Linked DNA regions of Homo sapiens: region 2 is linked to region 1. The links come from fine-mapping of genetic effects on gene expression. A gene starts in region 1. The other region holds a variant in brackets. All regions are shown on one strand. Distances are between the middles of the regions.

The links. PIP is the estimated chance that this variant, and not a neighbour inherited with it, causes the effect.
Region 2: its variant is the best candidate, but not a certain one, in a credible set for the expression of TCF21 in skeletal muscle (GTEx, PIP 0.60).

Annotation. Positions count from the first base shown.
Region 1 is chr6:133,887,892-133,890,810 of GRCh38, reverse strand. TCF21 (transcription factor 21) reads right to left here and starts at 1,698. Exons shown (of 2, transcript NM_003206.4): 1 at 964-1,698. The coding sequence starts at 1,413. It overlaps TARID (TCF21 antisense RNA inducing promoter demethylation), which reads left to right and starts at 1,805. Exons shown (of 9, transcript NR_109982.1): 1 at 1,805-2,207. RefSeq lists an enhancer at 1,237-2,150.
Region 2 is chr6:133,685,920-133,688,838 of GRCh38, reverse strand. All of the region lies in intron 4 of TARID (TCF21 antisense RNA inducing promoter demethylation), which reads left to right. Among named protein-coding and RNA genes, the nearest start is that of LINC01312, 130 kb to the left of the region's middle. The variant G/A (reference allele first, on the strand shown) is at 1,272.

The sequences.
Region 1 (2,919 bases):
ACCCCTCTCACTACTGCTCTAGTGCTAGCTGATAAGACTTGCCTTTTAAAAGGAAAAATCTCTCATTCTTATCATATACAAACAGAGATCCTAGTAAGTTGTTGTTATTGTTTTTCTTTAGATCTTAGAAGTTTTAAAATAAAATCAAATGAAAAAAATTAAGATATATTTCTTAAACAGTAAAATACATTTGAGAAAAAAGTAGACTCAATGATTATCAGTTTTTTGTGTTAAAAAATTAGGCTCAATGGGCATTACTTTTTAAGATAAAAGGTAACATTTCTTAAATCTTGGGTGAGAGTGACCTATTTTAGTATTTATTACACTCATACTAGTGAGGATTTACTGATTTTGCTGATCATTACTAGAACTTCTGGGATTTAAAAATATTAATCCACTTATAGGAGAAGCACAGAATATTTAAGCGGTTAAGGGCTTACGTGGACAATTTGGGGGGCATAGATGTGTCCTTATCCAATGGTCCTAAATATGCTTGTGAAAGAAACGGAGTTGGGTGTTTTTATTTACAAGGAAAGGAAAATCAAGTTCCACTCTCTGCTAAAAGAAGAAAAAAGGATTAACAAAATGCCTGTCCGCTCGCAGCGTCTTGTCAGTGTTCTCAGTTCCGCAGCAGCCACTGCACCCCAGGGAGGATGGCGATGGAGCGGGAGCGGGGGATCCCTCCTCTGTGCCAGCTCAACACACTTGCAAACTTTTAATTGGGCTGCCACGTCAAACCCTCGCATAAATCACTCCCGCTCCGGGGGCTGGTAGGGCAGAGAGCGAGGGCCGTGTCTAGACCGCCCGCCTCCGGTCCCTGGAGGCTCTAGGCCCGCGGTGGTCGAGATGTGTAAGTCACCGCCGCGCCCACACCCCCACTCCCAGCCCCGCGCGCACTCGCGCCCACCGCAGGCGGGAGTGCGGGCGCGCCTGGACTGCAGCTGCAGCCCCGGGAGCACTCACCAGGTTGACCGGGTGAATGTACCCGTTCTCGTATTTGTCGTTAGCCAGGATCTGCCTCAAGTGGGCGATGTAGCTGGACGCCAGCCTGAGCGTGTCCAGCTTGGAGAGCTTGGTGTCGGGGGGCACCCAGGGCAGGGTGGTCTTGAGTCTGGAGAAGGCCTTGCTCAGCACTCGCATGCGGGCCCGCTCTCGCGCGTTGGCGGCGTTGCGCTGGACCTGCTTCCCCTCCTGGCTGACCCCGCTCAGGGGGCTCTTCTTGGTGGGCGCCTTCCTCCTCTTGCCCAGGCCGCCGCGGCCCTTCTGGGGAGACCCATTCTCGCAGTTGGAGCTCTCCTCGGTGCTCTCGTTGGAAGTCACAAATTCCTTGTTCGAATCCATTTTCAACCCGTCACATTCCAACATCTCCACCTCTTGAAGGTCCTCCACATCGCTGAGGGAGCCGGTGGACATGTTTGGGGGAGTGGACGAGGGAGAGAGAGAGAGAGAGACAGAGAGACAGAGAAAGCGAGGAAGAGGGTGAGAGAGAGACAGAGAGACCCTGAAACCAAGAGGCCTCCCGAGTGTGGCGCAGCCACCTCCTGCTGGGAGCTGGAGTTGGGGTCTGGTTGGGTCTCACAACCCTTTCCCCTTCGCAGAGTTGTGAGAAGGAACCCCGAGGACTTCTGCAGCAGAGGAACCGGCTCTCTGTTTCCCCACTCCCAGAGTCGTGGCCGTAGAGGAGGGTGAGCGAGCGCTGAGGAATTTGGTGGACACTAGGAATTTATCTGGGGAATAGAGGGGCGGATCCTTGCAGCCCAGGGAGGGGCCTGCCAGGCCCCAGCAAAGCGCTTAGACCCCTTTCACAACCGGAGGGAAACTCAATGCACAGACCCTGATTTGCAACTTGTAATGTAAATCAACTCAACTGCATCATGTACTTACCAGCCACCTTCTCCCAACTGTGGCCGGGGCCGAGAAGCAGCATGTTCTGTCCATCTGTAAAAGGCCTTCTTTCTCTCTTAAGACGTCACAACTGGTTGTTACTGAGAACTTTAGAAAAACGACTAGATCGTTTGGCTCTTTCTGGGCCTTCCACCTACACTCCATGCCCTCTCTCCTCCCAAGAAAACACGAATTAAAATACAGGGAGTATCAACCGCATCCTGCCAACACCTCATAAGACTCCAAGGCTTTACCGAGATCTTCCACCTTCCCCGGGATAAATGAAGACAAGTGCTTCCTAGAATCTTTATGGTGATGGAAAAGTAAGTATAAAACATTTCACCTACACCTGGTCATTTTCAAGACATCAAAGGACTGCCTACGTGTACACAAACATACTTGATTTGCACACTCAAACCCAACCACACACAGCTTAGTGGGAGTGGGTAGGGAATGAGAGGGCAGTATGAGTGTGTGGAAAACATTATGTTAGTTGATCATCTTTTCCTAATAAATGGAAACTTTCCCCTCGGTTTTTTTTTCTTTTCTAGAAATGCATTTAATATTGCCTTGAGAGTCTTTGTTGCTCTCAGACATCACCTTGCCTGGCACTTTTTGTGATGCACCGTCCCTTTCAATGCTGCTGTCTTTGTCTTCTTCCAGCCTGTTAGGTGCCAGTGTTCCTCACATGAAGCTGACATTACACAACACAAAGCAAGACTATCCTTTTGAGAAAGGTTCTTTTCCATCTTTAACCCCAGCTCGAACCACCTTTCCTAGAGAATAAGAAAGTCTCCTGGGAAGTAGGTAGAAAAAGCACAGGGAAACAGAACCTAGGGATTGGATGAAATTGGTGCAATGAAACCAGGGAGACTGAAGGCATAAATCTCTCTTACAATTTCTTTGCCAGGTTTTCTTCCCTTGCAGGTAGGCATTGAAGTTGAGGGGCTGGAGCAAAATGTAAGAGTGGTTTCTGAGTGGTTGGCTTAGGGTCTGAAGGCTTCTCCTACATTAAGATATCATATCTCTAATCCT
Region 2 (2,919 bases), 200 kb after region 1:
GGGCCACGTCATAAATGCTTTTCTCTTTTTTTGTTCCCTGTTTGGACAATTCTGAGACATGTTCCATGAGATTCCTGAGAAATTCCTGGCTACATGGTGCATCAGCCCTCCATAGTGATGGCCAATTCAACATGCACCCTTGGATTATTTCCCTTTCTCCTGTCTCAATCCTCATGCCCCCTCCCTTTCTCACTTGTATCACTCCCCAAATAAACTATCTGTGGGTAAGGCTTTGTATTAGGGGTTCTCTTTAGAGAAATCTAGACTAAAATAAATTGGAGAAGAGATTAGAGCTGGAGAATGAAATTGATCAAAATTTCATTTCAGTCCCTTCAAAACTGACTGTAATTAATTAGTTTGGCAGGCTTGGCTATCATGCACTTATGTGAACTCTTAGGTATGAAGGTAGAGAAGTTTAGCTGCCTGAAACGATGGGGTCATTATTATTCTCCAGATTACTCAGGATCCAGTTCTAGTGGGCTGCCTCAACTCAGTCTACCCTCAGAGAACCCTCAAGAAATTGGTTGTGTAATTGCATTGCATAATAAACTGTATCTATAACCAAACTAAATTCTATGCTCACCTTATCAACACTATAAGCTGGTTCCTCCTGTACTTGACAAGTATAATATCAATAAATCAATTTTAGTGTTTTAACATTAAAACCTTGTCTCTTTTTATTATCAGGTCTGAAAGTGATAGTGTATCATTTATAATGCACCCTGAACCAAGAATGCCCTCTTATAAAAGTCCTCAGTTTGTTTTTCCTCTGTAGAACAATATCCCTATAAACTGCAGAGAATCCATTGTTAAAACATGGAAGCTGTCTTTGATGATTTTAACTATACTAAGTAATAAAGTCATTTTGGTCCAAATGCAAGAGAAAAGTCTCTACCTCCCTTTTATTTCTGTGTGTCTCATTAAAGAAAGGGCTAAATGTTAATTTGGGAAATCAACAACTTTAAATGATGAAGGAAATGAGTTTTTTTCAGTACCAATAATTTAAAAGTCTATCTTGAATGTTTCAGCATTGGATAAGAAGAATGATGAAGCTATTAATAATTCTGCCTTCGTGTTACCAAAAATTGTTTTAATGAAAGACAGCGTATTCTGGATTTAATGTAAATCAGGCTAAGAGAAACATAGTGCCTTAAAAATAATTAGACATCCAATTGAAAAATCTTGCTTCTATAATCTTTCTACCCCACATCTTAGCCTGCTCTCCAAGGTAAAACTATAACGGGGTCTCTCTGGTTCCTTTTCTGTCCCCC[G/A]TGTTCATCTAGAAAAGACGTGAAGAGCAAAACTATACAAGACCTCTGTTTCATTAAACAAACTCAAGTCCAAGAAGATGCTTCACTTAAAAATTCAGCTAGCCTAAATGTGATAAGTTCTATTGATATTTTTCTTCAGTCATGAAAATGTTAATCAAATTTTCCACCTGAAGATCCAACTGATAATTTAAAATGATACATTAATTAAAATTAGTTGAAAACATTTTTAGATGAACAGAAAAGAAGTTTTGAAACTATGGGAGGGTGAGAAACATGGAAAATTACATACATTATATAAGTACAATTGAATAAATGCTAATATATTATTTAATACATTGTATGGTCTACAATATTTGAATAAGTAAAATACATGACAACTAATAGATCAAAAGGTGGGAAAAGAGTATATGCATTGTTGGGGACATAGCAAAAATAATAAATATTAAAAAATAAATCAAAAATGTATGTTTTAATCTTTAGGGTAATCCATAAAAGAATAGTAAAATGAATTATAAAGTAGTAGAGACTGTGGAATAGTACTTGATTAATACTTGACTAAAATTGAGGAAAAATAAAAAAATTAATCTGTTCTCACACTGTTAATAAAGACAAAGGCGAGACTGGGTAATGTATAAAGGAAAGAGGTTTAATTGACTTACAGCTCCACATAGCTGAGGAGGTCTCACAATTATGGCAGAAGGTGAATAAGGAGCAAAGTCACGTCTTACATGCCAGTAGGCAAGAAAGCTTGTTCAGGGGAACTCCCATTTATAAAACCATCAGATCTCATGGGACTTATTTACTACCACTCGAACAGTTTGGGGGAAGCCTCCCCATGATTCAATTATCTCCACTTGGCCCTGCCCTTGACATGTGGGGATTATTACAATTCAAGGTGAAATTTGGATGTGGACACAGCCAAACCATATCAGAACAAAAAGAAAGTAAATAGTAGGATAGTCAATTTAAACAAAAATATATGAGAGTTTTAATTAAATGTAAGCAGTCTAAATACTGTGATTAAAAGATTTGTCAGTTTTTTTTTTAAGCCAGACATTTATGACATACATGAGATGCATTTTAAATGTAAGGCTGTAGAAATGTTGAAAGCAAATTTAAAAGAGAAAAAAATTAATAAAAAAGCTGTATACACAAATATTAACCAAAAGAAAGTTGATATATAACATTAGAAAAAGTGGGCTTTTATGCAAGAATAATTGCCTATATATGTTTCAGTTCATTAATTCTCTTTTTAGCAGTGTTCAGTCCTCTGTTTAATCAATCCATTGAGTTCTTTATTTTGGCTAATCTATTTTTCCAAGTAGAATTTCTATCTGATTTTTTCTTTATTCTATTTCTTGGCTGAAAAACTCTATTGTGTCATGTATTTTTCTTGAACAGGTTAATCACATTATTTTAAAGTCTGTGTCTGATAACTAATATTTTATCAATTATGCATCTATTTCTATTATTCTATTATTTCTATTATCCCAAGTTTTTCTCCTTGTTTTCAGTGATTTGATTCTGTGTCTGGTATGATTGATAATTTTTACTGGATGTCAGACACTGTATATGAAAAGATTTAAAGATAACGTGAGGCTCCTGATGTAGCTGATTTTCTACATGGAGGACAAATTTTTGCTTCTGG